7 linked regions of the Homo sapiens genome follow. The protein of the gene in region 1 purifies or fractionates together with the protein of each later gene. This does not show direct contact. Each region holds a gene or a part of one and is shown in the gene's direction. Other genes may lie near its edges.

What was found.
Region 2: the proteins of TOR1AIP2 (region 1) and MTCH1 purify together in Homo sapiens (affinity purification with mass spectrometry; 2 studies listed by BioGRID and IntAct, with this or other methods). This does not show direct contact.
Region 3: the proteins of TOR1AIP2 (region 1) and ENTPD6 purify together in Homo sapiens (co-immunoprecipitation; 2 studies listed by BioGRID and IntAct, with this or other methods). This does not show direct contact.
Region 4: the proteins of TOR1AIP2 (region 1) and ACSL4 purify together in Homo sapiens (co-immunoprecipitation; 3 studies listed by BioGRID and IntAct, with this or other methods). This does not show direct contact.
Region 5: the proteins of TOR1AIP2 (region 1) and SLC25A30 purify together in Homo sapiens (affinity purification with mass spectrometry; 2 studies listed by BioGRID and IntAct, with this or other methods). This does not show direct contact.
Region 6: the proteins of TOR1AIP2 (region 1) and NSUN3 purify together in Homo sapiens (affinity purification with mass spectrometry; 2 studies listed by BioGRID and IntAct, with this or other methods). This does not show direct contact.
Region 7: the proteins of TOR1AIP2 (region 1) and SLC38A10 purify together in Homo sapiens (affinity purification with mass spectrometry; 2 studies listed by BioGRID and IntAct, with this or other methods). This does not show direct contact.

Annotation. Positions count from the first base shown.
Region 1 is NC_000001.11:179,875,004-179,879,126, reverse strand, and holds the start of TOR1AIP2 (torsin-1A-interacting protein 2), read left to right. Parts: upstream 1-1,323; 5' UTR 1,324-1,434; intron 1,435-1,753; 5' UTR 1,754-1,888; intron 1,889-4,123. UniProt on the Homo sapiens protein: Required for endoplasmic reticulum integrity. Regulates the distribution of TOR1A between the endoplasmic reticulum and the nuclear envelope as well as induces TOR1A, TOR1B and TOR3A ATPase activity.
Region 2 is NC_000006.12:36,972,697-36,976,196, reverse strand, and holds part of MTCH1 (mitochondrial carrier homolog 1), read left to right. Parts: intron 1-479; coding exon 480-539; intron 540-3,400; coding exon 3,401-3,500.
Region 3 is NC_000020.11:25,202,212-25,205,711, forward strand, and holds part of ENTPD6 (ectonucleoside triphosphate diphosphohydrolase 6), read left to right. Parts: intron 1-3,500. UniProt on the Homo sapiens protein: Catalyzes the hydrolysis of nucleoside triphosphates and diphosphates in a calcium- or magnesium-dependent manner.
Region 4 is NC_000023.11:109,723,258-109,726,757, reverse strand, and holds part of ACSL4 (long-chain-fatty-acid--CoA ligase 4), read left to right. Parts: intron 1-3,500. UniProt on the Homo sapiens protein: Catalyzes the conversion of long-chain fatty acids to their active form acyl-CoA for both synthesis of cellular lipids, and degradation via beta-oxidation. Preferentially activates arachidonate and eicosapentaenoate as substrates.
Region 5 is NC_000013.11:45,411,874-45,415,373, reverse strand, and holds part of SLC25A30 (kidney mitochondrial carrier protein 1), read left to right. Parts: intron 1-3,435; exon of another isoform or gene 3,436-3,500. UniProt on the Homo sapiens protein: Antiporter that transports inorganic anions (sulfate, sulfite, thiosulfate and phosphate) and, to a lesser extent, a variety of dicarboxylates (e.g. malonate, malate and citramalate) and, even more so, aspartate.
Region 6 is NC_000003.12:94,125,561-94,129,060, forward strand, and holds part of NSUN3 (tRNA (cytosine(34)-C(5))-methyltransferase, mitochondrial), read left to right. Parts: intron 1-650; coding exon 651-930; 3' UTR 931-3,500. UniProt on the Homo sapiens protein: Mitochondrial tRNA methyltransferase that mediates methylation of cytosine to 5-methylcytosine (m5C) at position 34 of mt-tRNA(Met). mt-tRNA(Met) methylation at cytosine(34) takes place at the wobble position of the anticodon and initiates the formation of 5-formylcytosine (f(5)c) at this position. mt-tRNA(Met) containing the f(5)c modification at the wobble position enables recognition of the AUA codon in addition to the AUG codon, expanding codon recognition in mitochondrial translation.
Region 7 is NC_000017.11:81,244,311-81,247,309, reverse strand, and holds the end of SLC38A10 (solute carrier family 38 member 10), read left to right. Parts: intron 1-248; coding exon 249-425; intron 426-636; coding exon 637-1,754; 3' UTR 1,755-2,499; downstream 2,500-2,999. UniProt on the Homo sapiens protein: Facilitates bidirectional transport of amino acids. May act as a glutamate sensor that regulates glutamate-glutamine cycle and mTOR signaling in the brain. The transport mechanism remains to be elucidated.

The DNA of each region.
Region 1 (4,123 bases):
AGAACAATAAATTTTTTGTACAGGAACTTTTTGCTTTAGGGTAAGCAGAAGTTCATTTATTTAAAGAGATAAATCTATCCGTTGTGACTTAGTAGTACAAATGAAGTAGGCAAACAATTTTAATAAGGAAAAGATGATTAAAATATTAAACAGGAGGAAGTTAATTAAAGACATAGTAGCTGGCTCCATTTATTCCCCAGTCTTACAAATGATAGAAAAATATTTTAATGACAATACAAATGAAAATTCCTGGAAATGTTATACTGAAATTAATTAAACACAATAAAGTGAATGGAATATAGTATTCTTTTTGTTGAATTAGGACTTGCAGTTAATTATTAAACACCATCCAAGAGTGTTACCAAATCCTGTCACTTCTGCCAAGAGAGGGTGATTGAGAAGTGAAGGCACCAAAAATCACATTAAATGAGGAATTATTAATTCAATAAATACTTGAGCTACTGTGTAGTAGGCAGTCCCTGTTCTCTGTGCTGGGGATACAGCAGTGAACAAAATAGACTAAAAGACAAAAAATGTTTCCTGCCTTCTTGGAGATTATATTCTATGGGAGGAGTCGGGCAAAAATCAAAATAAGTAAAATAGTGTGTTGGTCAGGACTGTTATGGGAAAAAAAAGAGGAAAGGGGAAGGGAGTTTTACATGAATAGATTTCTTCTTGAAATTTGGTTAGATTTGTCCTGAATTGCTGTAGGTCAAGAACAGGAATTTTAGACTTACTTCATTTTTCCCCCAACAAATTGTATGTTCTTGGGTAAATTGCTCGCCATCTCTTAATTTTCACATTTATAAAATTAGTAGATCAAAACAGCTATTTTTTGTCACTACTGTCATTTAACAGAAATGCTGCATACGTCATCTAATCTACTAATAACAAACTTATGAGGTAAGTAACGTTGTCCCCATTTGACACACGAGCAAACTGAGGTTTAGATTAGGCAACTCATTGGATTACATGCTCCTCTTAATGGCACAGAGGGTGTGTTCCAGGACATGGTGCTTGCCATTATCATTTGGTACTGCTGCTCACTGTGTTGGTCCTATGAGTTTCTTCAGTCTATGAATTTCAGGTCAGGGTGGTCGACGTCTTACAGAGATGCCTGTAATCCTGTCAGCATGAGATTGCATGGGACCTCTGCGGTTTGGTCGCGCATTTACCGCGCCTGTCGCTGGGTCAGACGACCTGGCAGTAGAGGGTGAAGGATGGAGAAGGCAGAAGGCAGGGCACGGAGACTACTAGTCCCAGGATTCCACGGGCGCCTTCCGGCGGAAAGTGTTTGTCATATGGGCGGGGACCCTGGACGACATTCGGGCCGCGGCGGCCGCTGGGTGCAGCCGAGCGGTGTGGAGCGGAGAGAATACTCGAAGGGCTCTCCTGATACTAACAGTTTTACGATTTAAAACTTCGCCAGAATTTGTAAGTAAACAAAATGACTATGCAGCTTTTCCATGTTTTAGTATTGAAACTGATATCTTGAATTTTTGAAAAGGACTTTCAGAAACGGTCCCTCCCCACCCCCACCTTCGTACCGCACAAATGGTATTTTTATTTTTATTGTTTTTGAGACAGGTACTTGCCCTGTCACCGAGGCTAGAGTACAGTGGCGTGATCATAGCTCACCACAGCCTCATACTTCTGGGCTCAAGGGATCCTCCCGCCTCAGCCTCCCAAGTAGCTGGAACTACAGGCCCGCACCACCATGCCCTACTAATTACTTTATTTTTTATTTTTATAGCGACAGGGTCTCACTGTATTGCCCAGGTTGGTCTCGAACTCCTGGCTTCAAGCGATTCTCCCACCTCAGCCTCCCAAAGTGCTGGGATTACAGGCGTGAGCCACCACGCCTGGCCTCACTCAAACAGTAAACGAGGTAGGTTGGGGGTATATTTTTGTTTTGGGATAAAAAGAAACTGAATCTTATAAATATTAAATGGGTTAAGATGTGAGTAAATTTTTGGGTTTAGACTTTAAGGTGAGAAGCCGAATTATTTTAGGGTTCGAAATGTGAGTGGGAAATTTGCCTACTAGTGTAGGCGGCGATTACTCCATTCCCAACATGCCTAGGTTCTCGACATTCATAATCTTAATCCTGAAAAGATAATACTTAAAAAAAAAAAAAATTGGTGCTAAAAAGGGCAAAGTTGAAGTTTTAGTAAGACCTCCTACCATTTTGCTTACATATTATATATGTACCATTCTCCCAATTGTATTTAATACCTGATGAAAAAGTTTGTGCCTTTTCCTTCTTTTAACAAATTTCATAGTACTCTCTACTTTATGAGTAATGCTTAATTATCAGACTTTATACTGTTACACAGATCCAGAAATGAGTTACATAGATTAAACATACTGGCTTTGTTTTACCTGTCTTTAGGTTTTAACACATTTTATTTTGGATCTGTATGAGAGATCCTTTCTTTGTTTTAAGCTGTGGCAGTTATCCATGTTTTTTGAGCTTTTTTTTTTGAGCACAAGATGAGGATATAAAAGGCCAGTGGAAACATTTAATAAAAAAAGGAACTTCATGGTAGAGTAACTACAGATGTTTTTGGAAGACTTTGTGTGGATTAGAATAGTTTGAAAAACTAACATTTGTTATGAAAACTGAGTGCCTGTCTTCAGTAATGTTTATTATGCTGAACGTGCAGTCCACAACTTGATTACCTGTTTTTCTGCTGGTTTGTTACGCAACCTTGCGTGACTCATTTAAGAACTATTTTATCTAGTTTCTTTCCTAATGTAGAGGTAATGCTAGCTTGAGAGCTTCAATAATTTATAAATAAATTAACTTCAGAATGTAGCTAATTATTTGAGGATTATTGGGTGTTTTAATAATGTATTGTATCTTGTATATAACTTATTTTTGCCTAAGAAGTAATTTCTGTATTCCATTCATTTCCATGGAACACAGAAGTCAAAATTCTATTCCAGGAAAGTCCACACTTCTTTGAAGTGCCACTTGAATTTCCTGAAGGAATGTTTGCTTCAAAAAGCCTTGTCTGCTTTATCACTTTGAGGTTGTTCACTAAGTCAACTGTGAAGGCCCATAAACTTGGAGATTCGACAACTTCCAAAAAAATTTAAAGAATGAAGAATTGGCTGTTTTATTTACCATTTAGAATTTTGATTGTGTTAAAATTTCATTAATATTTCTACATCATATGAACTACTGGATTAAACTGTGTCCTACAAGAAGGAATTCATAGGGCGATCATATATTACCATAAATTTTGCACAGAAATCAAGCACTTGGGAATAAGGAAGCGTGTCCCTAACATTGGTAATGAGCATAGACTGGAGTCATAGCTGGGTTTGAATTCCTATTTTGTTACTGTGTGGGCTGTTTTCCTCTTTACTAATATTTAAAGGAGCTGGCACATGATTTTTTTTTTTTTGGTGCCATGGCTCTGGTATGAACTGTGCACATAATTTTGGTAATCGAAATTTCTGGGAAGAAAATTCACCTATAACTCCACTACCTCAACAAATCAAATTGTTTGATTTTTAGAGATTTTCCTTCAGCCCTTGACCATGAGTATCTATCATGTAAATGTAATGACATTTTTGGAAAAAGTCAAATTTTGAAACATTGGTGTCTTCTGGGGTTTTAATTATATAAATGAAGCTGTCTGGTTTTGCCTTTAATAGTTCAAATAATAATTATTTACGGTTTTTGAGGACTTCTTTTGTGCCCCTGTGGTTGCCAGTATTGCACATTATCTCATTTGATCTTCACACTGCCTCTTTCATCTAAGTACTATTATTCCATTTTGTAATTAAGAAAACCAAGGAAAAAATTAGCCAGGGGCTGGGTGCAGTGGCTCACGCCTATAGTCCCAGCACTTTGGGAGGCCAAGGTGGGTGGATCACTTGAGGTCAGGAGTTTGAGACCAACCTGGCCAACATGGTGAAACCCTGTCCCTACTAAAAATACAAAGAAATTAGCTGGGCGTGGTGGCGGGCACCTGTAATCCCAGCTTCTCGGGAGGCTTGAGGCAGGAGAATCATTTGAACCTGGGAGGCGGAGGTTACAGTGAGCTGAGTACGCGCCATTGCACTCCAGCCTGGGCGACAGAGCGAGACTCCATCTCAAAAACAAAACAAA
Region 2 (3,500 bases), on another chromosome or scaffold:
CTCCTGCAGGGCCCTGTATTCTTTCTCTGCCCTCTGGGAAAGTACTTCTCTTTGCTTACTACCCCCTCCTACTCTTACTCTTGGGCGGGCCTGTGGGCTCCTCTGCTAGAGGGTTGTTTAACCAGAGATAAGTGTGAGGGCCGGGTAAGAGAAGGGCCTGCCGCCTCTGCAGCAGTGGCCCAAGTTAGGAGATGCATTCCTAAACTCCTATCTCCCAGAAAACACCAGTAGAGGACTGCTAGTGGGCTGCTCCCATGGGTGGTTGGGCTTCCCCAGTCTCCATGAACTGTGTAAACTCCTCCTCACCCTGAACAAGCGCTCTTTGCCTTTCTACTTGGTTCTTCATGGTAATAGTCCTCCCCATCCCTGCCAGGACTGGCTGGATTTGAGCAGAACTGGTGGGCTCAGCCCCACACCAACGGGTGGGCTTCTGGTAGGTGACTGCATGACCCTGTATCTCTGTCTTGCCTTCTTCACAGTGGTGTGCTGAGCTCCATTGGGAAGATTTTCAAAGAGGAAGGGCTGCTGGGATTCTTCGTGTACGTGAGTTTATACACCCCATAACTGGCCACGGGCATGGCTCTGCTAACAGGTGTGTCCTCAACCTCTCAGACCGCAGCTGCTGGCCTGGGACTTCACTACATGGCCCTGCCCTAGCCTGAGTGCTGCAGCCAGCTCTCCAGAGCTCCATAGCGTGTCCAAGCTGCTTAGCCCTTTTCAGGCCATGGCTCATGTAAAAGTGGAACTGTGTGTCTAGTACATGGGGGAGATGAACTGACCAGCCCCACTGGGCCTCATCCAGTTGTGGTGGGTGTGGGGCTGGTCTTCATGAGCTAAGTCACTGCATAGTCCTTGGCCTCACTGCTAAAACATGACTGAAAATCTGACTTGGACTGAGGGTGGAGCTCTGGAAGCTCACAGGCTGACCACAGCCAGTGGATTCTGTTTGACATTGCTTTTCTGACAAATTAGTTGTTGCCGTTAACATTTAAGATATGTTGCACAAAAATCCACATGTCTGGCATCTCTTGAAAAGCCAGAAAATCTTGTCCTGCTGAGCGGTTCTTTCTGTAGAGCATCCATCGGCCAGGACCCAGGACCTGCTTCTTTGGCAGGGCACATGGTCTCCGAGGGCCGCAGACACCCTGTACTTCGTCACGTCACATCCAGTGTACTTCACCTCTAAAGAAAGCACATACTGAAAAGACTAAGTTCAGAAAGAATAAGGTGCAGACAGAAGCCAGGCTTGATGAGTTGTATTTTGATTTGCCGTTTTAAGGTCTAGGCAGTGACATACATGCTGATAAGTATGTCACAAACGTGGTAGACACATGGTATACAACAGTATCCGCTGTACTAGATACAGGGCTCCATATTATTCATAAGAAGTCTTTATATCATGGTTTTCCGGTTTGTGAGATGTTTTTTATTTATGGCCCCTTGTTTAACCAATTAGTGACTACTTGTAGGTGCATGTGTGTGTATATGATATAGAAATATATATACGGTTCTCAGCAGGAGGTGATTTTGCTCCCCGGGGAACATCGGCAGTGTCCGGAGACATCTTGTGGTTGTCACAACTGGCATCTAGTGGGTAGAGGCCAGAGACGCTGCTAAACATCCTACAGTACACAGGACAGCCCCGCAACAAAGACTTATTCAGTCAGGTGTCGTTGCTTGCATCTGTGATCCCAGTTAGTTGGGATTAGTCTCAGTGGTTTCTGCAGCTGTCAGGAGACCAAGGCGGGAGGATTACTTGAGGCCAGGAGTTCAAGACCAGCCTGAGCAACATAGTGAGACTTCTGTCTCTACAAAAATGTTTTTAAAAATTAGTTGGCCGTGGCGGCATGCACCTGTAGTCCTAGCTACCCGGGAGGCTGAGGTGGGAGGATGGCTTGAGCCCAGGAGTTGGAGACTGCAGTGAGCTATGATTGCACCACTGCACTCCAGCCTGGGTGATAGAGTGAGACCCTGTCTCTTGGGGAAAAAAAAAATTATTCAGCCCAAAATGTCAATAGTGCCAAGGTTGAGAAACTCTGATTTATATTCACACACACACATATATGTATGTGTAAGTATTTATACATACATATATTTGCACATGTACCTGGTAACAAACCAACATTTGTGACATACCTATCAGCATGTATGTCACCGCCTAGACCTTAAAACAGCAAGTCAAAAAACAACTCATCAAGCCTGGCTTCTGGGTTCTGTCTGTGCTTTATTCTTTCTGAACATAGTCTTTTCAGTATGTGCTTTCTTTAGAGGTGAAGTAAGTTGGATGTGAGGTGACAAAGTGCAGGGCATCTGTGGCCCTCAGGGACCATGTGCCCTGCCAAAGGGGCAGCCCCGGGACCCCAGCCAATGGCTGCTCTACAGAAACAGCCACCCATCTTGAAACACTGCACATGACCACCTCTGGCATTTTTCACACTGCGTAGTTCTCTTCTGGTGTTTGAATAGGATTCCCGCACAACAGATGCCTACTCTTTGGGTTCTTTCTCCCCATGTGATTTTGGAACAGGTGATACTCATACATGTTACAGTGCATAGAAAGCACCAAAGGGTATAGCACAAAGTCAATCTGAGCACAGGCAGGGACGACAAGATTAGAAATTGCATTCACAGAGGTTCCTTTTATTAATACTCTTCATAGATGTATTACATATATTCTTTTGAGTTTTTCAAATATAAGATTTTTTTTTTTAATTCAAAAACAAAAATTCTGCTTCTCCTCCCAGGAGACAGCCATCCTTCTCCTGGCGAGCCTCCCAGGGCACTCTGTACCTAAACAAGCAAACACATTGTAAAAAACACAAGAGGCACATGGGACTCACTGACCTCAAACTGGCCTTTTGCCCTCAGCACTGCATCTTGGGGAACCTTCCTTAGCAGTTTATAGAGCTGTTTATCCTAAAGGCCATCACTTAAAAAGTTAGCCCTCCTTGTAAATGCTTGCATAGAATCTTTTTGATAGAATATTTTCAGGGGCAAAGAGAACAGATGCATTGAGCAGTGTGTCTTCTGAGAGTTGGTTAGGTAAAGAGGCCAGGAGAAAATTACCAACACGTCGGCACTCTTATTATCTGCATTTGGAAATTCCAAATTTGGCAGTATTCACATCTTGATCCCTGGCTTCTGTGGTTTGAAAACTGCTTGAGACTATTAGCTAATTTATGGCATCCAAAGCGGCATAGAACACCTCCCCATGGGAAAAGGAGCACTATCTTCCCAGTGTGCATAGCTGCTGGACCCTGCAGGCCTCCTTTCTAAGGCTGTGCCATTGGATATGCTAAGATTTTGAGCTCGGAACATCCCTGCCTGCTTCCTGGGTGTGGAGCCCCCAGGAACTGCTCCTCTCCCTCTCCTGCTCATCTCTGCTTACCTTGTTTTTTAGTGGATTAATCCCTCACCTCCTGGGCGATGTGGTTTTCTTGTGGGGCTGTAACCTGCTGGCCCACTTCATCAATGCCTACCTGGTGGATGACAGCGTGAGT
Region 3 (3,500 bases), on another chromosome or scaffold:
GAAAGGTTGATCTTGCTGTCTCAGAGGTGGCAGGAGTGGAAGAAAATCTGGATATAAGTAGACCTGTGCAGTTCAAACCCATGTTGTTTGAGGGTCAGCTGTAGTCAGGTCTTGTTTTTTAATCTATTCTGTCAATCTGTGTCTCTTGATTAAGGAGTTAATCCATTTATATTTAAAGTAATTACTCATAGGGAAGGACTTGTTTTTGATGTTTTGTTATTTATATATATTTTATAGCTTTTTTTGTCCTTCATTACTACCTTATTTTGTATTTAGTTGATTATTTGTAGTTTCCGTTTTTGATTCCCTTCTCAGTTCCTTTTGTGTATATGCTACAGACATTTCCATTGTGGTTACAACCATAGGGATTACATACATAACAGCCTGAAGTTATAGCAATCTATTTTAAATTGATATCAACTTAATTTCAGTCAGACACAGTAACCTCTCCTTTACAATTCCATCTACCCCCACTTTGTTATTGATGTCACAGATTACATCTATATATATTGGGTATGTACCCATTAACATAAACCTGTAATTATTTTTATGCATATATCTTTTAAATCCTGAAGAAAATATTAAGTAGTGTTGCAGACCAATTGTACACTAATACTAGTTTCTATATTTGTCCCTCCATTTGCCTTTGCTGGAAATGTTTGTATTTTCTTACAGCTTTTAGCTGCTGTCTAGTGCCCTTTTGTTTTAACTTTCAGGACTCCCTTTAGTAGTCTGGTAGGGCAGATCTAGTGGCAATGAACACGCACATCTTTTATTAATCTGGAAGTGTCTTAATTTCTCCCTCATTTGTGAAGGACAGTTTTGCTGAATGTAGAATTCTCTGTTGACAGATTTTTTTGTTTGTTTGTTTTAGCAGTTTGGGGGTATCTTCCCACTGCCTCTGGCCTCTGAGGTTTCTGCTAAGACATTGGCTAACAGTGTTATTGAGGATTCTTTGTACATCATGAGCCATTCTTTTGCTGCTTTCAATATTCTGCCTTTGTCTTTACACAGTTTGATTATATTGTGTCTTCATGTTGGTCTCTTTGGGTTTATCTTACGTGGGGTTTACTGAGCTTCTTGGATGTTTATATTCATGTCTTTAGTCAAATTTGGGAGGTTTTTAGCTATTCTTTCTTCACATAATTTCTCTGCCCCATTCTCTCTTCTCTTTCTTAGATTTCCATAATGTGCATGGTGCACGTGAGGGAGGCCCCTAAGTCCCTGAGGCTCTGCTCACTTTCCTCATTCTTTTTGTTCCTCTGACTTGATATTTTCAAATGTGCTATGTTGAAGTTTGCTGATTCTTCTACCGACTCAAATCCCTCTGGTCAGAGTTTTCAGTTCAGTTTTGTATTTCTCAGCTCCACAATTTCTGTTTGATTCCTTTTTATAATTTCTCATTTTGTTGTCATATGTTATTTTCTTGATTTCTTTTCATTCTTTATCTGTTTTCCTTCAGCTCTTTTAGCATATTTAAGACAGTCATTTTTAGTCTTGGTCAAGTACATCCAGTGCCTGCATTTCTTCAGGGATGGGTTCTGCCACTTCATTTTCTTCCTCTGAATGAGCTGTGTTTTCCTGTTTCTTTGTATGCCGTGTGATTTTTTTGCTGAACATTGGGCATTTGAAAAACAGCTCCTTGTCCCAGTCTTTGAAGACTAACTCTGTATTGGGAATGGCCCCCACCAAATAGCAGGATCTGCCTAAGTGTGGGGATCAGCTCTGGATGAAGGCCAAAGTTTCCTCTGGTTTCTTCTGAGGATGCATCTTCCCTGGGCCTGTGTATGTGTTTTTTTCAATTTCCCCATATTCGTGGCTGTTTCAAAATCTCTTACTTTCATTATGAATACTTTCAAGCTTCCCTTTGGAATATACCAAGAAATGCATTTGGAGTAACCTTTGTTTTTCTATCATTGTAAATTTAGATTCTGGAATTGGGGTTTGGTGGTGTGATGTGTTGCTCACATGTGGCCAGAACTCCTGCTCCTAAAAGGACTTTGAGATCAAGGAACACATATTTAATCTCCCCTTTATGCCTTGGTTTTAGTTCCTCTTTCCAAGTTGAATAACCAATTTTTCATTGCTGTTTGGTTTAAGTTGGTGCTTTGAAGCTTAATCTCAGTACCCTTAACTCTGAATTATCGAATTTTGATAAAAATGTGTGCCCTTATTTTTTGGTAAGAGAAAGCAGGTCTTAATGTCTGCCGGAACACAATTTATTTGCCTTGTTGGCTCCATTAAACTTTTACAAAGCTTTATATATATATATATATATCTTACTTTCTCAAAGTCTCCCCCAGTCCCTCCTTGGGCCTCAGATGTTCTACTGTATTTCTCACCTGTCATTCTTGCCCCAGGTATGCGTGGGGCTATAGTCATCCTACAGCTTTGCCTAGCAGTGCCCATAACCATTTCCCTGACTTCCTATCTGGGCTCTGAGCTCAGAGTCAGGTGAAACAGAGATCTGTTCCTCAGGCAGCCCAAGACAGATTAGGATGTTGCAGAAAGGTCCGCTCTGCTCCCTCCAGTTCAAGGGAAGGAATTGGGAACCGGGCTGCCGCATTCATCAGGTGGTGCCATGCTGGGGAGGCCTGGGGCAGGGGTGAGTGAAACACCTCAGAGTTCCTGACATCCTGAATGTGGCTGCTTCTGGGCTGGGCATTCTCTTGGTTGCTGTAGATCGTTGCCTGTTTTGCAGAGCTCCTATGCAATATTTTAACCAGTCTCTAGTTGTTTTTAGTGTTTCTCTGTGGGGGAACAAGGGCCTTTGAGCTTCCTCTTTTGCCGTCTTGCTGTGTCCTCTCCCTGTTTATGGATTTTCTACAGGACTCTGTTGTGTGTCTGGTGACGTTATAGAAGGTGCGGGGGTAGAGGAGCAGCCTCTTCCATTCTAGAGAAGGGCTTGGATGCCATGCTGGGCAGCAGCAGCACAAGACAAGCTGAGTCCCTGCCCTGGGGGCTCATGGCCTAGTGGGGAGACACAGACCTACAGGAATCAGGTCTATGAATACTGGTTTCATCACTGCTGGTGGTGGGTAAAGGGAGCTCAGAGAGTGCGTGATGGGGCATGTGCAGGTTGGGGGCATCCGGGAAGGGGGTGGCAGTGACATTTCAGTGGAGGTTTCAGAATGAAGACACGGTGCCAGTGTGGTGGGACAAGTATTCTGGGAATGCGTATCAGTCTGTGCCAGGGGCCTGAGGCAGGGAGAGGCTGAGTTCTAGGGGCAGAAGAAGGCACTGTTCTCAGAGCACTGTGGGCAAGGACGAAAGAGGAGTGCGATGAAGCCACAGGGGCCAGCAGGGACAGGGGCCGGCAGGGACAGGCCCAGGCAGAGGCTGCAACATGATCCTGAGAGCTGTGGGAAGCCCCCGAGTGTGGTGGGACCCAGGCCCAGAATAGGGCTGGGGAGGGGCTGCACGTTGGCACCTGCCAGGAGAGGCTTTTTGCAGCCCTGCCCGTGGCAGATGCTCAGGGAAGGGTGGTTTTTCCTGTCTCC
Region 4 (3,500 bases), on another chromosome or scaffold:
GCAGAGAGCTATGATTGCACCACTGCACTCTGGCCTGGGTGATAGAGCGAGACCCTGTCTCAAAAAATAAATAAATAAAATAAATAAAAATGAAAAAGCTTCTACATATGCATTAGAAGCTTTAATTGACCTCCACTTAATTGACTCACCACATTGAATAATTTTTATTTCCTTTGTAAAATACAGTGTACACTGAATACTTGGTATTAGTTGGTTGATCTCCAGTACTCCAGCGTGCTTGTTTACCTACCAGTACAGTAAATTTTTTTACTACTAAACCTGTATATGTTGGTTGTATTTGTTTTTTTGTTTGTTGGTTGGTTTGTTTGTTTTTGAGATGGAGTTTTGCTCTTGTTGCCCAGGCTGGAGTGCAATGGTGCAATCTCGGCTCACTGCAACCTCTGCCTCCTGGGTTCAAGCAATTCTCCTGCCTTAGCCTCCCGAGTAGCTGGGATTATAGGTGCCCACCACCATGCCTGGCTAATTTTTTTTGTATTTTTAGTAGAGACGGGGTTTTGCCATGTTGGCCAGGCTGGTCTTGAACTCCTGACCTCAGGTGATCCACTTGCCTCAGCCTCCCAGAATGCTGGGATTACAGGCGTGAGCCACCGTGCTAAGCCTGCTTGTATTTGTTTTTAAAAGGTAATTTGTTTAATATGTTGTAACCTGACAATATATGAGTGGGGGAGATTGGAGTTCTTTTTACTGAAAATTTACAAATGAAATAATATGATGTCTGGGATTTGCTTAACATTATACAAGGGGTGAGGGATGGAGGTGGGTTGTGGGTAGTATGGAAGAAACACAATTCAGCACATATGAATAACTGTTGAAGCTGGGTGATGGTTACATTAGATTCATTATGATGAAACAAATTGTTTTGAGAAGAGTTAATGAAAACAAGTTGCAAAAAAAAATACTGTCCGCTTAAATGTGGGTAAGATGACTATACAAGATACGTGGAAAAAATATAAAAATCTAAAAGAGTTTTATTTTATTTTATTTTATTTTATTTTTTGAGATGGAGTCTCGCTCTTTTGCCCAGGCTGGAGTGCAGTGGCGTGATCTCGGCTCACTGTAAGCTCCACCTCCCGGGTTCACGCCATTCTCCTGACTACAGGCGCCCTCCACCACACCTGGCTAATTTTTTTGTATTTTTAGTAGAGACAGGGTTTCACCGTGTTAGCCAGGATGGTCTCGATCTCCTGACCTCGTGATCCGCCCGCCTTGGCCTCCCAGAGTGCTGGGGTTATAGGTGTGAGCCACCGCACCAGCCATCTAAAAGGGTTTTATACTCACATTACTTGTCAAATGTAAAATCAATGGGCCTGGAGTTAGAGAAAAAGGTCTTGGCCTCTTGGCCCCATATAGAAAGTTTGAGGCTGGCATGGTGGCTCATGCTTGTAATCCCAACATTTTAGGGGGCCAAAGCAGGAGGATTGCTTGAAGCCAGTTCAAGACCAGCCTGAGCAACATAGCAAGACCCTGTCTCAAAAAAAAAAAAAAAAAATAGCTGGGTGTGGTGGCACACACCTGTAGTCCCCAGTCACTCAGGAGGCTGAGACAGGAGGATTGCTTGAGGCCAGGAGTTCAAGGTTGCAGTGAGTCATGATCACACCACTGCATTCCAACCTGGGAGACAGAGTGAGATCCTGTCTTTAAATAAAAAAACAAAACAAAACAAAAACAAAAAAAACCCCAGGTCAGGTACAGTGCGTCATGCCTGTAATCCCAGCACTTTGGAAGGCCAAGGCAGGCAGATCTCTTGAGGCCAGGAGTTTGAGACCAGCCTGGGCAACATGGTGAAACCCCATCTCTACAGAAAATTTTTATTATTATTATTATTGAGACGGAATCTCGCTCTGTCGCCCAGGCTGGAGTGCAGTGGCATGATCTCGGCTCACTACAACCTCCGTCTCACAGATTCAAGCGATTCTTCTGCCTCAGCCACCCGAGTAGCTGGGATTACAGGTGCCCACCACCACACCCGGCTAATTTTTGTATTTTTAGTAGAGATGAGGTTTCGCCATGTTGGCCAGGCTGGTCTCAAACTCCTGACCTCAAGTGATCTGCCTGCCTCAGCTTCCCAAAGTGCTGAGACTACAGGCGTGAGCCACCACGCCTAGCCCAAAAAATACAAAAATTTAGTTGGGCATGGTGCCATGTGCCTATGGTTCCAACTACTGGGGAAGCTGAGGTGGGAGGATTGCTTGAGCCCAGTAGGTGGAGGTTGTAGTGAACTATGATCACTCACGTCATTGCATTCCACCCTGGGTGACAGAGTGAGACCTTGTCTCAAAAAAACAAAAACAAAAATTAGCCAGGCATGGTGATGCACAACTGTAGTCCCAGATACTTGGGAGGCTGTGGCAGGAGGATAGCTTGTGCCCGGGAGGCAGAGGTTGCAGCGATCCAAGGTCACTCCACTGCATTCCAGCCTGGGCATCAGAGCAAAACCCTGTCTCAGAAACAAACAAAAAAACAAAAAAGCCCCCCAAAAATAAATAAACCAAAACCACACACACACAAAGTTTGTTGAATGAGTATATATATACCACTGATGAAAGGAAGGTGAAATGTTTGCCATACATATTTTTATGATCGTTTACCTGAAATTAACCTTTTAAATTACATAACCAATTGTTCTAAATCACATTAGATAAAAGGGTTTCTACTGCATAATATCCATAATATATAAAGAGCTCCTAAAGATCAATAAGAGAAAGGTACCCACTACAAAAAGCAAAAAGTGGCAGAAGATTATACATGGGCATTTCCCAGGAAAAGAAGTACTGGTGAATAAAAAAGAAAAGATGTTCAAATTGACTCTGGTTATTAGGGAAATGTAAACCGTTTTTCACCAGACAGATTGGCAAGAACTTAATATCCACTTTTAACAAATAGGCATTTGCATACACTGTTAATGAGAGTTCACATGTATAACTCTTTGCTGAAGAATACCAAAATCATCTCATTTTTAAATGTGCATACATTTTGACCCAATAGTTTTATTAGAAAACAATTCTAGGGAAATATTACATGTGTATAAAACTATGTATAAGGTTTCGCTGCAGTGAAACTGTTTGTAACTGTGAAAATTTGGCAGTATCCTAAATATCCATCAGTAGGGAATGATTTAAATAATGGTAAGTTATACTGTGGAATACCATTGAGTTATTAAATAAAAAAAGAAGAAAAGCCTCTTGGTTAGACATATATATACACTGACATAGGAGTTCCAAAGTATGCTGTTAAGCAGGGGAAGAGAGGGGGAGGGAGTCAAAGAACAGTTGTATACCATAATTCCACTTATCTAAAAATAAACCCTTATCATGTGTATGGGTAATACAAAACAATCTGATTGATACACATCAAGAGTAATTATCCCTAGAGGAAAAGAGAGTGGTGTTAGAGGAGGGCAGTATAGTTTTACTTTTTCTCTGTACAATTCTATATTATATATTATAATTTACAATTACAATTTTGATAGTAGGTATGCA
Region 5 (3,500 bases), on another chromosome or scaffold:
ACCAATATTTTTTTAACAGCCCTTGGAAGATAGTGTCTGCAAAGTACTATCTAGAGGAAGGGTCATGTGATCCTTCAGAGAAACCTTAGTTTGAATATTTGGTAGCTTTGACCAGGGAAAGTTACTTTTCTTCTCTGAGGCTGTTTGCTTAGTTGTGAGATGTGGATAATGATACCTCTTTCATAGGACTGTGAAGAAAATGTATAGCAATGCCTAACAGCAGGTATTCAGGGATGACTGCTAGTGTTAGTATTATGTTCATAACGCAGCAAGGAGAAGTAAGGAATTACTGGGTTTTAGCATGGCTTAGAGAACATGGCTGTAAGAGGACTGTCAAATCAGAAGTGATCTACAGCCACTGCCCGACACTGGAATTTCTGCAAAGTTGTAATTCCTTCCCCGAGATGCTGCCCAGACACTATTGACTGCTAAGGACACATTAATCTCTCTAACTGTCTTGGCTTGTCAGCCTTGGGACTTCTGTAGATCCAGTTGGGATTTTTCCAAACAACTGTGTTTGGAATTCAAGGAAGTGTTTCACGAGACTTCCCTTCAGAAAGAGCTCCAAAACAAAGAAATGGGTTAGTTTACTGAACAGAGATTTCAGCCTAAGATACTTATAGCCCTGTCACAGCTTGCTGTGGCCAGTACAGCTTAGTGGACATCTACTTACTTATTCCAGTCCTAACTAGAACCGTTTTCGTGTGTGTGTGTGTGTGTGTGTGTGTGTGTGTGTGTATGTGTGTGTGTGTGTTTGAGACAAAGTTTCGCTTTTGTTGCCCAGGCTGGAATGCAGTGTCAAGATCTTGGCTCACTGCAACTTCCGCCTCCCGGTTTCAAGCGATTCTTCTGCCTCCGCCTCCTGAGTAGCTGGAATTACAGGCACCCGCCACCATGCCTGGCTGAGTTTTGTATTTTTAGCAGAGACTGGGTTTTGCCATGTTGGCCAGGTGGTCTTGAACTCCTGACCTCAGGTGATCCGCCCACCTCGGCCTCCCAAAGTGCTGGGATTACTGACATGAGCCACTGCGCCCGCCCCCTTTTCCTTATTTGGATGTTTGCCCATGTACTGCGGCTCTCTAGTTCATATTTAAGCCAAATTATTCTTTTACTCAGCAAACATTAACTTGATAAGTTCCAGTAATATTAACTGCTTAGGGATCTAGTCCTACCTTTTGGAAAGGAAGAGAAAGGCCAAAAAGTTGTTTTTACCTCCTGACTAGCTAACTTTTAAAAATCGTAATTGAATAGAAGTACTTGCTTATAGGATGCTGATCCAGGAGTGGACACTAATTTGTAGAAAAGTTTTATTGGTGGTACTTCTGAATGAATGGGCATGTGATTCATCCCATGTGATTGAAAACTATGAAGAAGCAATTCCATCACATTTTTAGCTCTAGTTAAGTATTTGCATATTAGTATTAACCCAGAGCCTCTGGATTTTAACCTAACCAACTGAAAACTTAATATCAAAACCGACAGAGGAAAAAGTAGCCAAATCTCATTAAAACTTAACTAGCTGGCCAGGCACGGTGGCTCAGGCCTATAATCCCAGCACTTTGGGAGGCCAAGGCAGGTGGATTACCTGAGGTCAGGAGTTCAAGACCAGCCTGGCCAACATGGCGAAATCCTGTCTCTATTAAAATACAAAATTAGCTGGGTATGGTGGCCCATGCCTGTGATCCCAGCTACTTGGGAGGCTGAGGCAGGGGAATCACTTGAACCTGGGAGGTGGAGGTTGCAGTGAGCTGAGATTGAGCCATTGCATTCCAGCCTGGGGGACAAGAGTGGGACTTTGTCTCAAAAAAAAAAAAAAAAGAGATGGAGTCTGACTCTGTTGGCTAGGCTGGTCTTGAACTCCTAGGCTCAAGCCATCCTTTCAGGAACTACAGATGCGTGCCACTACACCTGGCTTTGTTTTGCTTTTTAATCTGCAATCAGCTAGGTCTAAGAATGGGTTAAGGAAGTTAGTACTGGGTGGTAAATGAATTATTGGATTTATTATTAATAGGTTCTTACAGTCTCTTACAATCTTAACTATTATATGAGTTATGAATTTAATAAGGCTAAGAATTACTTAAGTGCAGTTATTAAATATTTTCAAAGATAATAGGGAGATGAGAGGAGTCTTTTGGGAGAGGGCTTGCTCCTTAGTACTGAAATACCTAAAAACATACAGTGGTTTTCATGTTTCATTCTTACAGAACCTTCTATTTTACTCATTTGTAACTGCTATGAATTTGGTTAATATCCATAAACAAGGAATAATGATTAATAGATTTATTCAAGGTGCCCGATGGGGGGTCCTAGTGTTGGAAACTGATATTCTGGGCAGTGGTGACTTGTGGTAGTCCTCTCCTGGGAAAAGGAGACTTGGGAAATTCCTAAACACAGGCAAAGTAAACATGTTGGCATATTGCTTGCCAATAATGACTGAAAAGTTAGAAATTTTATTTTAAACCAACAGTAGCTATAGTTGATAGTATATATACAAAAGTATTAGTCATATGAGTCTCCTGTTAAGGGGTGTGAGGCCACATTTACCAGCTCTAATTACATACAACTGCAGAACATGTCATGAATGTGAAAGGCCTTAGCTGTGGCACATAAGTACATGTCACAGTGAGCAAGGTCTTATTATGGAAAAGGAAGATGGAGGGCAATATTTGTGAGTGTCTTTAAAATATATATGGCTTAATGCCCACAATAGGCCTACAGCTTGACATTTATTTAACTTAGTGAATAAAAGTATGGATGTCCCCCTAATTGGTTGTGTTGCCTGCTGTGGTGATGATGGTGTTGGCGAAGAAGAAAACCGAGACTCAGGTTAGCAGGAACTTCTCTAGGAAGGGTGTGGGGTGGCTCTGACCCCAGAGTCAGCCTCTTTCCTCATGCCAAACTGCCTCACAGCTGGTAACGTAATAAGGCTAAGAGAAGTGAGCCGATATTTATAGAATGTAGACTACAAGTAGCCTGTGGTGGCTGGGCATAGTGGCTCTCACCTCTTTTCCCAGCACTTTGGGAGGCTAGGGCTGGAAGATTACTTGAGTCCAGGAGTTAGAGACCAGTCTACAAAAAATAAAACAATTAGGCTGGCATGGTGGTGTGTGCCTGTGGTCCCAGGTAGTTGGGAAGCTGAGGTGGGAGGATCACATGAGCCCAGGAGGTTGAGGCTACGGTGAGCCATGTTTGTGCCACTACGCTCTAGTCTTTGTGACAGGGTGAGACCCTGTCTTAAAAAAAAAACAAAAAAAGAAGTAGCTTGTAATTTTAAGTAATTGTCATTTTACCTTATGACACAAGTTTGCAACATTTGTCTGCTGCAGTGCACCTGAGGGATGTGATCCCCACCCCACCCCCCCACCCCCAGTAAGGACTCACTAAGATAGCAGTGAACGAATAGCAAATACTTTTTTTTTTTTTTTTTTGACACAGGGTGTTACTGTGTTGCCCAGGCTGGTCTTGAAATCCTGGGTTGAAACAATTCTCCTACCTTGGCC
Region 6 (3,500 bases), on another chromosome or scaffold:
GACTTCTTATGTATGCTTTCATATGTATGCTTTGTTTTTATTTTTACTCCCATCGATTTAAAGACAAACTCATTATTCTGTTCTCTACCCCTATTTTCCTACTTTTTGAATAGCAATCAACCAGTCTAACTTACTCTATCTTTTCCATGTTGATTGGTCTGATTATCATTTTCCAAGTCTTCAAGGATAAGTTAGAAAGAAATAGGTGTAAGATCAGAGATTGGGCACAGTGGCTCACGCCTGTAATCCCAACACTTTGGGAGGCTAAAGCAGGCGATCACTTGAGATCAGGAGTTCAAGACCAGCCTGACCAACTTGGTGAAACCCCGTCTCTACTAAAAATACAAAAATTAGCTGGGCATGGTGGAGGCCGCCTGTAATCCCAGCTACTTGGGAGGCTGAGGCAGGAGAATTACTTGAACCTGGGAGGCAGTCATCGCAGTGAGCCGAGATGGCATCACTGCACTCCAGCCTGGGTGACAAAGTTAGACTCTGTCTCAAAAAAAAAAAAAAGACTAGAAAACATCCAAAGTAATTGCAGTCTAAGTCAGAGTAAGGTTAGTTTTAAGTACGTAATCTTTGCTGTCAGACCCCCTGGTTTCTTTTTAATATACTTAACTAATCTTTTGCATTTTTCTGATTGCACACAGGTCTGCAATTAAGGCCTTACGTCCTGGAGGGATACTTGTATACTCTACATGCACGCTTTCCAAGGCAGAAAATCAAGATGTGATCAGTGAAATTTTAAACTCCCACGGTAACATCATGCCTATGGACATTAAAGGAATAGCAAGGACTTGCTCCCACGACTTCACATTTGCTCCCACTGGCCAGGAATGTGGGCTCTTAGTGATTCCAGATAAGGGCAAAGCCTGGGGCCCAATGTATGTAGCCAAATTGAAGAAATCATGGAGCACAGGAAAATGGTGACATGAATTTGTAAACTGTGTTTATGTGTTATTATATTTATATTTCTGAACTCAGTACATGTTAATATTTAAATAATTATGCAGTAACTTTCTCTGGGTCTGTTTGGAATCCTATTTAGTTAATACTTTAGCATCTTAGAATCTAGGCTTGAGAATTGTTCAGGTGTATTTTTTTCCTAGAAATATATCTGTAACAATGATTTAAGGTGGTGCAGATGGTGTTTGTTCTATATTATAAATCTGCTGTCTTTGCTTGGCATTTTATAGTTAAATTAATTAGAATATGTGGTTTTATGCATAACGTGTTTAGTTCTGTATTCTTTCTATGATAGTGCTTTGAACCTTCAAAAATTCACATTTTCCAGCGCTCCGACCATTTTCCCGCTTATCAAATGTACAAATTTGTTCAAGGTTTTTTTTTCCCCCCAACTTTTGTAACTGATTGTCTCAGAACTGATTGGTATTCTGAGACTAACTTTTTAAGCAGCACTATTTCTAGTTCTGGCAAAATAGTTTTTTTATTTGCAATGTTGTTTTCTGTTAAAGACTATATTATGTTTACTGCAAAGGTCAGTGACTCTACTGACACCAGCTTTATTTCCCCCACTTTTTTTGCATTCACAAATACAAATTGAAAGGGTAAATTATATTGAAAGGCCTTTAGAACAGCAGATTCACATGCACATGTTTGACTTTCGACATTCAGCTTATAGAATTATGGAGTCTATCCAGCAGGCTATAAAGCAAGTACTTGAGACAAAACCGGAATGATTAATAACTGCAATCACTGAACTATATTTGGAGAGTTTTGTTACATAATTGCAGTCATAATGAGCACTACAGAATCTGATTATCTTACATTCACAATCTGGAGGGGCTTTTTATTTCACTTTGTTATAAAATGTTCTCTGAGAATATGATGCCACATATTAATGCACAAGAGGGAGATGCCTAATGAGAGTGGACTGTGTGATTACCAGAACCCAGTGCCATTTACTAAGTGGCTCTCCATGTTTACATAAATCCTGGGAATACTGTATACATTTCTTCTTATGTACTTAGGGTTTTAGCTTCAGTCAGCATCACACTTTTTCTCCAGAAATTACTTCACTTAGAGTACAAACATATTTTTCCAACTATTAAGAAAAATTATGCAGCACATCTCAAAAAATAGCATCTCTTTGGAAAATAGCCTTTAAAAAAAAACAACTTTATCTGATTATAGAAATACAAAATTCTGCTAAAGCTGAATACTTTTGAATTGTTCATTATGTTCTGTGCCTTTAAACTAGAGACTATTTGCTTATTAATATTTTTTGTTTTGCAAGCATATGTAACCCGGTTTATATCATCAGGAAGTCTTAGGAAGAATTTTTTTTTCTGTACCTTCAGTCTGTTAATCATTTGTTTTCCTTTATGTCCAATTGATATGTTTAAAGTAAAGCTAAAGTCCAGGCACGGTGGCTTATGCCTGTAATCCCAGCACTTTGTCAGGCCGAGGCAGGGGGCATCTCCTGAGGTCAGAAGTTCGAGACTAGCCTGCCCAACATGGTAAAACCCCGACTCTACTAAAAATGCAAAAAAATTAGACAGGCATGGTGGCTGGCACCAGCAATCCCAGCTACTTAGGAGGCTGAGGCAGGAGAATCACTTGAACCCAGGAGGCAGAGGTTGCAGTTAGCCAAGATCTCGCCATTGCACTCCAGCCTGGGCGACAAGAGTGAAACCCCGTAGCAAAAAAATAATAATAATAGTAATTAAATAAAAATAAAGTAACGCTAGAACTGTTGGACCAAATCAAGTATATGGGTAAATACAGAAGAATAATGATGGTGGAAAAGATGTTTTCTTTTTTAAGTTATCATTATTAGTTTGTTTTTTTTATCTTCAGACACTATAGGTTTTAAAAATAGGTTTCTTTTATGTAGGTTAATCACAGAGTAAATCTGCACACTGTACTTTGTTAAATGTCGGTATTTTCCCAGTATAATGCGATGAAGCTTAATCTGAATACTTGGTATGCTATTGAATTTACTTTCCTATGATTACTGAAAAATGGATGCACGTGTGTGTGTGTGTGTGTGTGTGTGTGTGTATATATATATATATATATAATTTTATTAAAAGCAATTGCCCCAAAAGCAGAAATTGACAAGCGGGACCTAATTAAACTGAAGAGCTTCTGCACAGCAAACTAAACTATCAACAGAGTAGCAGACAACTTACAGGATGGGAGAAATATTTGCAAATTATGCATCTGCCAAAGGTCTAATATCCAGAATCTATAAGGAACTTAAATCAGCAAGCAAAAAACAAATAACCCTATTAAAAACTGAGCAAAGGACATGAACAGACATTTCTCAAAAGAAGACATTCACATGGCCAACAAACATATGAAAAAGTGCTCTTCATCACTAATCATCAGAGAAATGCAAATCAAAACCACACTGAGATAATATTTTACACCAGTCAGAATGGCTATTATTAAAAAGTCAATAAAATAAAAAATAACAGACGCTGATGAGGCTGTGGAGAAAAGGAACTGCTTATGAACTGTTGGTGGAAATGTAA
Region 7 (2,999 bases), on another chromosome or scaffold:
GAGGCCATCCCGGGTGGGCTTCCAGGGGCAGTCAGGGCGCAGCCTCTCCCGGGCCCTCAGGCCTGCGTGCATCACTGAGCTGTCCGGGCTTCACGGTCACAGTCATGATGGGTGTCACCAGTGGCCAGTGTTCGGGCACACTCCCTGCAGGTGACCTGTGCGTTGCCTTGCTGTGGGCCGCGCCGTCCCTGGCCCAGCACGGTGCATGAGCAGCCCGGGCACTCTGACTGTGTGCTTTCCAAACCCAGAAGCTGGCAGGGCGGAGATGCTGGACCACGCCGTCCTGCTTCAGGTGATCAAAGAACAGCAGGTGCAGCAAAAGCGCTTGCTGGACCAGCAGGAGAAGCTGCTGGCGGTGATCGAGGAGCAGCACAAGGAGATCCACCAGCAGAGGCAGGAGGACGAGGAGGATAAACCCAGGCAGGGTAGGCCGGGCTGGCGGATGGAGTGGGGTGGGGCCAGGCAGGGGGTCTCCTGCTGTCCTCATGCGGCTGGGTCTGAGGCTCGGTGGCCTCTAGACCTGAGCGTGAGTCTGGTTTTGGTTCCCAATGCTGTTGTTGCTGGTTCTTCTGAGCCCCTCCACTGGCAGCCTGTGTACAGTGCTGTGGCTAAATTGATGACCGACTTCATTTGCAGTGGAGGTGCATCAAGAGCCCGGGGCAGCGGTGCCCAGAGGCCAGGAGGCCCCTGAAGGCAAGGCCAGGGAGACGGTGGAGAATCTGCCTCCCCTGCCTTTGGACCCTGTCCTCAGAGCTCCTGGGGGCCGCCCTGCTCCATCCCAGGACCTTAACCAGCGCTCCCTGGAGCACTCTGAGGGGCCTGTGGGCAGAGACCCTGCTGGCCCTCCTGACGGCGGCCCTGACACAGAGCCTCGGGCAGCCCAGGCCAAGCTGAGAGATGGCCAGAAGGATGCCGCCCCCAGGGCAGCTGGCACTGTGAAGGAGCTCCCCAAGGGCCCGGAGCAGGTGCCCGTGCCAGACCCCGCCAGGGAAGCCGGGGGCCCAGAGGAGCGCCTCGCAGAGGAATTCCCTGGGCAAAGTCAGGACGTTACTGGCGGTTCCCAAGACAGGAAAAAACCTGGGAAGGAGGTGGCAGCCACTGGCACCAGCATTCTGAAGGAAGCCAACTGGCTCGTGGCAGGGCCAGGAGCAGAGACGGGGGACCCTCGCATGAAGCCCAAGCAAGTGAGCCGAGACCTGGGCCTTGCAGCGGACCTGCCCGGTGGGGCGGAAGGAGCAGCTGCACAGCCCCAGGCTGTGTTACGCCAGCCGGAACTGCGGGTCATCTCTGATGGCGAGCAGGGTGGACAGCAGGGCCACCGGCTGGACCATGGCGGTCACCTGGAGATGAGAAAGGCCCGCGGGGGGGACCATGTGCCTGTGTCCCACGAGCAGCCGAGAGGCGGGGAGGACGCTGCTGTCCAGGAGCCCAGGCAGAGGCCAGAGCCAGAGCTGGGGCTCAAACGAGCTGTCCCGGGGGGCCAGAGGCCGGACAATGCCAAGCCCAACCGGGACCTGAAACTGCAGGCTGGCTCCGACCTCCGGAGGCGACGGCGGGACCTTGGCCCTCATGCAGAGGGTCAGCTGGCCCCGAGGGATGGGGTCATCATTGGCCTTAACCCCCTGCCTGATGTCCAGGTGAACGACCTCCGTGGCGCCCTGGATGCCCAGCTCCGCCAGGCTGCGGGGGGAGCTCTGCAGGTGGTCCACAGCCGGCAGCTTAGACAGGCGCCTGGGCCTCCAGAGGAGTCCTAGCACCTGCTGGCCATGAGGGCCACGCCAGCCACTGCCCTCCTCGGCCAGCAGCAGGTCTGTCTCAGCCGCATCCCAGCCAAACTCTGGAGGTCACACTCGCCTCTCCCCAGGGTTTCATGTCTGAGGCCCTCACCAAGTGTGAGTGACAGTATAAAAGATTCACTGTGGCATCGTTTCCAGAATGTTCTTGCTGTCGTTCTGTTGCAGCTCTTAGTCTGAGGTCCTCTGACCTCTAGACTCTGAGCTCACTCCAGCCTGTGAGGAGAAACGGCCTCCGCTGCGAGCTGGCTGGTGCACTCCCAGGCTCAGGCTGGGGAGCTGCTGCGTCTGTGGTCAGGCCTCCTGCTCCTGCCAGGGAGCACGCGTGGTCTTCGGGTTGAGCTCGGCCGTGCGTGGAGGTGCGCATGGCTGCTCATGGTCCCAACACAGGCTACTGTGAGAGCCAGCATCCAACCCCACGCTTGCAGTGACTCAGAATGATAATTATTATGACTGTTTATCGATGCTTCCCACAGTGTGGTAGAAAGTCTTGAATAAACACTTTTGCCTTCACCCAGCCTCGGTGGATGCTGTTTGGTGTCCAGGAAGCACAGGGAGCAGGGGCCAGACAAGCCGGGTGTCCAGGGGCACTGGCCGGTGCCGCCCTTTGCACTCCTCATGGTTGGCCCAGCCCTCCATTGTCTGTGTTTTTCAAAATCCAATTGTGGCTTTTTTTAAAAAGTAAAAAACACCACTGATAACCTGATTAGTGAAGTTGGTCCTGGGGGAGTGACTGAAAGGAAAGCCTGAGGCCGGCTCAGGATTCCAGATGTGTAAAGCAGAGGCCAGAGGTCATGAGGGAACGGCGCCATGACCTGAGCGTCGCAGTGACTGGACACTAGACGCAGCACAGCCCCAGAGAGACCCTGTGAGCAGGCAGAGCCGCCTGGTGCCAGGAGGTGGTCCAGCCCCCAGGGCCAGGCTGACGGGCGTGCTGCCTCGTGACCAGGACACGCTCCACAGCCCTCTCACCTGGCGGGAGAGAGGAGGTGCTGCTGTGTCCACAGCATCCGAGTCTGCTTTGGCTCGTCCTCTGGGGAGCTTGCGCCCCAACCCTGCCACGAAACCCTGCCACGAAGGGCAGAGGACCAGGGCCTGGGTCTGGGGGAGGCCCGTGTTGGCGAAGGGTCCCTGCATGGAGGGCCGGCCTCAGCCTCTGGTGGTGTCTTCCTGCACCTTTTGATATCCTTTTGGCTCTTTATTATA